Regions from separate parts of the Homo sapiens genome. Here regions 1 and 3 are each linked to region 2. The links come from fine-mapping of genetic effects on gene expression. A gene starts in region 2. Each other region holds a variant in brackets. All regions are shown on one strand. Distances are from middle to middle. Region 1 overlaps LOC107985814 (a long non-coding RNA gene). Region 2 holds the start of NPAS2 (neuronal PAS domain protein 2). Region 3 has its middle 18 kb from the start of LINC01868.

Evidence for each region. PIP is the estimated chance that this variant, and not a neighbour inherited with it, causes the effect.
Region 1: its variant is fine-mapped to the expression of NPAS2 in whole blood (TOPMed, PIP above 0.99). The same link has a PIP of 0.9 or more in T cells and blood mononuclear cells.
Region 3: its variant is fine-mapped to the expression of NPAS2 in whole blood (TOPMed, PIP 0.98).

The regions. Positions count from the first base shown.
Region 1 is chr2:100,642,951-100,645,450 of GRCh38, forward strand. The region is part of intron 3 of LOC107985814 (a long non-coding RNA gene); the gene reads right to left. Among named protein-coding and RNA genes, the nearest start is that of LINC01868, 36 kb to the right of the region's middle. RefSeq lists an enhancer at 1-341. The variant A/G (reference allele first, on the strand shown) is at 1,394.
Region 2 is chr2:100,819,015-100,821,514 of GRCh38, forward strand. It overlaps NPAS2 (neuronal PAS domain protein 2), which reads left to right and starts at 1,125. Exons shown (of 21, transcript NM_002518.4): 1 at 1,125-1,400.
Region 3 is chr2:100,660,402-100,663,187 of GRCh38, forward strand. It overlaps the pseudogene NANOGNBP1. Among named protein-coding and RNA genes, the nearest start is that of LINC01868, 18 kb to the right of the region's middle. The variant T/C (reference allele first, on the strand shown) is at 1,317.

The DNA of each region.
Region 1 (2,500 bases), 180 kb before region 2:
TATTTCTCCCACAATTCTGGAGGCTGGAAGTTCAACAGCAAGGTGTCAGCAGGACTGGTTTCTTCTGAGGCCCCTCTCCTTGGCTCGTAGATGGCCATCTTCATGTTCTAATAGGGAGACCAGCCATACTATATTAGGGCCCACCCTTGTGACCCCATTTTACCTTAACCACCTCTTTCAGGACCCAATCTCCAAATACCGTCACCATCTGTGGGTACTGGGGGTTAGGACTTCACCATGTGAATTTGCTGGGGGACAACATTCAGCCCATAACAGGATCACTGACTGAAACCCTAAGGGGCTGCATGATTTTATTTTCCTCATAGAGAAAAAATCCAGGCCTTCTAGAAAGCTTGACCTTGTTTCTTTCCTTCTTGTTTTGTTCTGTTGTGTAATTAGGGAAAATACTAGAAAAAAAGGAAGGAGTCATATATATATATATATATATATATATATGTATATATACACACACACACATACACACACGCATGTGTTATCATTTTCATTCAATAAAAATATATTTTATTTATTTATTTATTTTATTTATTTATTTTTTGAGAGAGGTTCTGGCTCTGTCACCCAGGCTGGAGTGCAGTGGTGTGATCCTGGCTCACTGCATTCTCAGTCTCCTGAGCAGCTGGAACCACAGGCATGTACCACCACACCCAGCTCTTTTTTTTTTTTTTTTGCGGGTGGTGGGAGGAGAGAGAAGCTCTCACTGTTGCCTAGGCTGGTCTTGAACTCCTGTGCTCAAGTGGTACTCCTGCCACGGCTTCCCAAAGTGCTGGGATTACAGGCATGAACCACCGTGCCTGGTCTCAATGTGTTTTTAGTTGACTTAGAAGAGACCAAATAGCCCCAACCAGGCTGTTTTCCAACTACAAATGAGGATAGGCTCCTGCTAACTGACTCTCCTAGAGGTATCTTTTTTTTTTTTTTTTGGCCCACAGATCAGTGTCTTAACCCCACCCCCTCTGAGATCACCATTCCTTTCATAGGTTTAGCATTAGACCACCCACCACCCCTGCTCCCTTCCTCTCCTCTGTCCCTTCAGGAGGGGAGACCCCATCCCTCCCTGGGAGTTGGCCCATGTAAGGATAGCTGATCGCACCCCCAAGTGGGGTTAGACCATCACTTTGCTACCTCTTATCTCAGCATCAGATCAGCGCTTTCATCAGAATAGGGCCCTACTGTGTGCTCCATTTCCCAAACCCTCTCAGATACATTTGATCTTTGCACGTTTGATCTTTGTGTCTGCGGGAGGAGGAAGGAAGTGAACTTTTACTGAGCTTGCTCCACATTTTAGGCTTATTGTTAGTGGTTTTTGCATCTGTGGTTTCTTTAATCATCATGTCAACCTATGGCATGATTGTGTATCAGAAAAAAAAAAGTT[A/G]TTATTCTGTGTAACCCTCAACTCAACCCCACCCCACTGATGTGCTGCAGAGGGTAGGGTGCAGTACCAGAGACGTCTGAATATTAATCTATAGAACACATTGATCTACAAGTCACGTTGATCTACAGAACAAAGGGCATGGAGAGCTCAGGAAGAAGAAAATATTTGAGAGTGTGGTGGGGGATGGTGGGGAGTGGAGAGAGAGCCGGTATCCTGTGGAATACAACTTTGAAGAGAGTTTTAGAAAGCCTTGCTGGGGATGTCTGGTGCATTCCGCTCCCTGCTTTGTTATAAAAGAGGATTTCTGACTTGCCTATTTGTGTTTCCTTGGGGGGTATCAGAGTTCAGGCATTGGGCTTGTTACACTCAGGTACAGTTGCTATGAGCACCATTTTATAAATGAGGAAACTGAGGCTCAGAGAGATGAAGTCATTGTTGGTCAGTGAAAGACCCACAGATTAACTTCCAGTTTGTCTAACTGCAGTCACCTGACTGGTTCTTCCTTTCCACAGCGCAGACAAAATCAGCTCACTGAGGCCACGGTATTGCAATAGAGAAAGAGTTTAAATGACGTGAGGCTGACCCACGTGGGAGAACTGGAGTTATTACTCAAATTAGTCTCTCCAAAAGCTTGGATATTAGGGTGTTTTGGATAATTTGGTGGGCAGGGGGCTAGGGAATGGCTGCTGCTGATTGGTTGGGGATGAAATCACAAGGGTGTGGAAAATGGTCCTCGTGCACTGAGTCTGCCTCTACATGGGAGCCACAAGACCTGTTGAGCCATGAGTCATGAGTCCTGGTGGGGTCAGTCTGAAAGATATCTCAAAAACCAATCTTCAGTTCTACAATAGCGATGTTATTTATAGGAGCAATTGGAAAAGTCACAAATCTTGTGACCTCTGGCCACATGACCCCTGAGCAGTAAGGGATTCTAGAAACTATGCCTGTCTTGTCAGAATTCAGGCCCCTCTCTCTCATAATCTTAACCTTGTGACCTTTCATTAGTTTTACAAAGGTGGTTTAGTTTGGGGAAGGGCTATTATCACCTTTGCTTTAAATGTAAACTATAAACTCAATTCCTCCCAAAGTTAGCTTGTCCTATGCCCA
Region 2 (2,500 bases):
GGGGATTATTCCTGTACCTCTGCCTCCCTCCGCTTGGCGTTTGCGGGAACCTTGGTAAAATCCTCCCTGTTTCTCGCGCGCGCCTCTCTCTCCAGCTTCTTTTTCTTGGATTCTCGCCTGTCTCCTCCCACAGAGGAAAAAAAAAAAAAGGTCACGTATGTTTGGAAAAATATGTAGGTCAGTGGAACATTTCCTGCACTGGTGCAAAAGGAGAGGAGGGCAGCGGAGGAGGGGAGGGAGAGGCAGAGTGGAGCTCCAAGTGCCCGCTCCTGGCCGCAGCCCCACACCCCACGTGCCCCTGCCGGGGAGGGGGGCAATTAGCCGGTTCCTTTCCATCCTTGACCCATTTTCCGGACCAGCTACGTTCGCCTTAGGACAGGCACTGGTTATTCCTCCCCAGCAGTCGCTGCTGTCCTCCGCCGACCACCGCTCGCCCGCATCTTCCCCGACCCCCGCCTCCCACCTGCCCCCGGGCCGCACCCCCGCCGCTCATTGAGAAATCGCAGTGGTCCCCGCAGAGACGCGCTTTGTGCCCTGGGTCGAGACCTGCGCGCAACCCTGCCCCTGGAGGACAGTGTGGAGGGGGTGACAGTCGCGTGCTCGTCCCCCTTCATCCCCTGCGCGGGACAGCAGGGTGGCGGCCCGCACTGCGAGGGTCTACACTAGGCGGGGGCGGCAGATTCCTTGTTCCCCCCGAGTGACAACTTTAATGGGACCTCGGCTGGCAGCCTCTAGTCCACTTGCCTCTCCTCTGGGCCGGCTCACCTGGAAGCACAACCCCCCCCTCCCCCAGCCCCGGCGCCCAACCCCGACCCTGCGCCCCAGGCCCGACCCCGCCGCGCGTCCCTGGCAGCCCAGCAGAGGCTGCGGCGGCCTGGGGACTCGCGGGTGTCTGCGCCGCCCAGGGAAGCCGGGGGTCTAGGGGGCCGGGGGTCCGTCTGCCTGCGGCGCGCGCGGGGTGCTTGTCCCAGGCTGGGTCGGGGCCAGGAGAGACCCCGCAGGCGGAGGCAGGCGAGGGGAGGAGGAGGAGGGTGGGGGTAGGAGGGGGAGGTGGAGAGGGAGGAGGGTGGAGGGAGGAGGCAGGGGAGGAGGCAGAGGCGGAGGCGGCTCTCCCCGCCGGCTCTGCGTGCGGAAGAGTTTGCCGCGCGAGCAGCCGGCCTCTCGCAGGAGCCGAGGGACCCGCGCGGCTGCGGCCCAGGAGCGGCGGCCGCGGAGCCCGGAGACCCGCAGCCGCGGCGGCGGCGGCGGCGGCGGCAGCAGCTAGAGCAGCGCCTCCCGCCGCCGCCCGGGAGGAGCTCGCCGCGCCCGCTCGCCGCCTCGTCTCCCAGCGGCGGCGGGAGGCGCGTCTCCCCGGCCCAGTCCGCGCCCGGCCCCGCGGGGCCGCTCCGGCCCGCTCCGAGGTAAGGGGCCGCGCCTAGGGGCGCGGGGGACCCAGGGTGGGTAGTACGTGCGCGCGGGGTCGCAGGACTCGGTCACCTGCTCGCCAGCGTGGAGGACGCGCGGGGGCGGAGGGGCGCTCAGGCGCGAGGCTGCGCGGCACCGGGGACCCCGGACGCGGGGGCGCGGAGAGGTGGGTTCCCCTCCACAGTCAGGCCGCTGGGGGCTTCGCGTCCTGCAGGAGGTAGCAATCGCTGGGCCGGTGGGCTCCGGGCGCGTCTCGACGCAGAAGACAGAGGACTGGGCATCCGAGCCTCGGAATTTGGGGGTCCTCGGGGTGTCCGACAGGGTGGAGAAGGATCGTGCCCCAGGGCAACAGCTTTGGGGATTGCCCGTGGTTGTCTTCGAGACCCATCGCGCTACCCTCCGAAACGTCGGGCGTCCTGGACCCCCGGAGAGTGCGGCGTGCGCGCCCTGGGCCCGCGGTCTCTCGGAGTCCCTGGGTCGGAATTGGTTCCGGGCCGGATTGGGTGCGGAATCGGTGCCCCCAACCCCCGTGTGCGCAGACAGCGTGCAGCCTGGCTCCTCACGTCGCTGCCGCCCCCCCACCCCAACTCCGGAGCTCCCCAGGTTGGATGTATGCGTATGGTTTTGTTGGGAGATGTGCCCCTTTCCCAGCCGAGGAGGGACGCACCTTTGACCTTTCTGAAGAGCTGGGCAGGTCGGTAACCAGGGAAGGGACAGGCACCACCCGGCTAAATTCAGAACCAGTCCCGCTCCTCTGCTTGCCACTCCTTAATTGCTCAAGGTAAGAAAGTTTGTTTCAGCCCTGTGATTCATAAATAATTAGTAACTAGTTTTGTTGATTAAGCAAGATGGAAACCTTGAATATACGCACGCACTTCCACAAAGTCTAAACACTCCCGAGCTTGTGTCCGGGAGGCTTTAGTACGGAAAGTTAGAAGCCCTGGAGTTCAACAGGTGTTCAGGAGGGTCCCGGAGAGGAGTTTCGTCTTTACGCGTTGCTTTGGCATCCACCCCAACTTCATTAAAGTGGTTAGCCTGTTTTCCTACAGGTAAAACATTGATCACTTATTAAATTAACTTAATCAGCAGAGACGAG
Region 3 (2,786 bases), 160 kb before region 2:
GAAATGAGAAACAGAAACAGTATCCCAAGAAAAGATTAGTCAGGAAATACCTGATGGACAATCTCTGGGCAAAGTTTAAGTTAAACAGGTGCCCCACAATACAAGAGAGTCTATCACTCTCATTTGAATTTGGCATGACACATAAACAGATAAATCAAAGGTTTTGTAAAAAGAGGAAGAAATATAACAAATAAATGTCCAAGAGAAAGAGTAAGAAAACACATATGAGATGGGGTCTCTCTGTATTGCCAAGGCTGGTCTCGAACTCCTGCCCTCAAGCGATCTTCCCACCTTGGCTTCCAGAAATGCTGTGAATCCAAGCATGAGCCATCGCACCTGGCTAAGACATTTTATATGACACCATTCTCACCAATAAATGGAGTTCTGAAAGGATAAACAAGAAAATATTAACAATCATTAATTCCGTGGAGTAGAACTAAATGAGGGGCATGCAAAGGAGGTTTTATACATTTTATTTTGACCCTATTGTAGATTTAAAGTTTTTATAATGGATGTTAAAATTGATTTTATTTAAGAAAAAAATCAATAAAAAAAAAATACAGACTAGAGCTCTCTCTCTCACACACAAGGACACTGTGAGAAAGCAGCTGTCTACCAGCCAGGAAGGCAGCCCTCACCAGAAGCTGAACCTTATCAGACCTTGATCTTGGACTTCCAGCCTACAGAACTGTGAGAAAATACGTTGCTGTTGCTTAAGCCGCCTAGTCTATGGTATTTTGTTATGGCAGCCTAAGCAGGCTAATATATCATCTTTCCTTTTGTGGGTCATGATTTTGGTGTCAAATCTAAGGACTCTTTGCCTAGTCTGCATTTTAATTCAAGTGTGTTTTCAAGTCATAAGGAAATCAACCTGTAATTATGGAATTTCAGGCTAGTAGCAAGGACATTCGGCATCAGAAAAGGACCTCTTTGAACCGTTCGTTATCCTACACCCGGCTCAGTCTCCTGAGCTGGCTCCTTGTGAGTAACCTCAAGAAGTAAGATCTGTGTAGAGATCACGAGGAGAGGCGTGTGATGCTCGCCTGTCGGTACAAAAGCTCAAAAGAAGAGTAAGCGGGTCCAATAAATTGCAACTGTTCCTACGGGAAATTATTGTCTTCCAAGTTTAAGATTCCTTTCCACATCCATTATCCCAACTGAGCTCTAATCCTCTGAGGTGAAGCAACTTTGATAGCCCTTTTCACAGAGGAGTGGACTGGGGCTTCCACAGGATCACATGGAAACCGGAAGTGATTTTCAGCTAAGAACTATCCTCAGGGATTGGCTGCTGCTTTTTAGGAGTAATAAAAAGAAAC[T/C]TCTCTGCTGGGCGCGGTGGCTCACGCCTGTGATCCCAGCACTTTGGGAGGCCGAGGCGGGCGGATCACGAGGTCAGGAGATGAGACTATCCTGGCTAACACGGTGAAACCCCATCTCTACTAAAAATACAAAAAATTAGCCGGGCGTGGTGGCGGGCGCCTGTAGTCCCAGCTACTTGGGAGGCTGAGGCGGGAGAATGGCGTGAACGCGGGAGGCGGAGCTCGCAGTGAGCCGAGATCGTGCCACTGCACTCCAGCCTGGGCGACAAAGCGAGACTCCATCTCAAAAAAAAAAAAAAAGAAAAGAAAAGAAAAGAAAGAAAGAAACCTCTCCAGCTAGCTAGAGGCCCAAAGGGCTCTTTAGTGGACATATATTGAGATACCTCCTGAGTCCCAAAGTGGGAGATCTCCTGGGCCTCACAGGCGTGGGACCCTGTCCTTACACGTCTCTCTCTGCTTTTCTCTACACCTTTGCTCCATTCACTAGGCCTCTCACACGGATGCATCCTGGTTTCCCTAGAGTAGAGCTCCTGCAACACAGTGCCCAGTTCCTTGGAAAGGGAGCGTGATTGGCCCAGCCTGAGCCATGATTAGGTGAGGAAGGACATTGTCTAAGTACAGTTTAAGTCACTTGAGGCCTTCCTGCATGGGAGTGGAACTGGATGAGCTGTGTCGACCTGAGCTGTTTGGAAAGAGATTGAACTGAACTGAACAAAATTGAATAATCCTGCAATACTGGTACTTCTATCCCTCATCTTACAGATGTAGAAACAGAAGCTCATGGAGTTAACTAAATTGCCCATCTAGGTCCAAATTAGTTCAGCAGGAAGTTCCTCATCAGAACAAATTAATAAAGTCAGGCTGTTCTCTTCATAGCCAGGATGACCCTAAGCTGGTCCTAAAGTTGGTCCCTGATTGATTTCAGGGAAGAATTTCTTATATGGAATTGAATGTGTTAAGGATAATGGCTTAAGTTCAGCCTATGGCATTTGGGTCAGTGGATTTCCAATGACACTCATGCAAAGAGCTTCTGAGTTTTGGTAGAAAGAAAGAGCATAAAATGTTAGGGAGCGTTTTTCAGGAATATTTTGGAGTACAAATGATCAAAACTAAACTCAAACTGCTTTAAGGAAATATACTGAGAAGTCCCAGAGTGCAGGTAGCTTCAGGCGTGATGGAAAGTAGAGATTCAAACAATGCTATCAAAGCTGTCACTCCACCTCTCAGCTCTTTCGTCTACACTGTCTTCACTATCCAGCAGGCTCACGCCACAGGGTAGCAAAGGCAGCCACTGGTGGCTCTAGGCTTACACTGTCCTCAGGGCTACTGCACCCCATGAAACAGAAAGCGCGTCTATTCCCAAAGCTTAAACAGAAGCCCCAAGGTGTGATCTGATTGGCCCAGCTTGGGTCTGTGCCCATCCTGACCCGATCATTGCACTGGACAGGGGAAGCAGAGATAACCTAATGA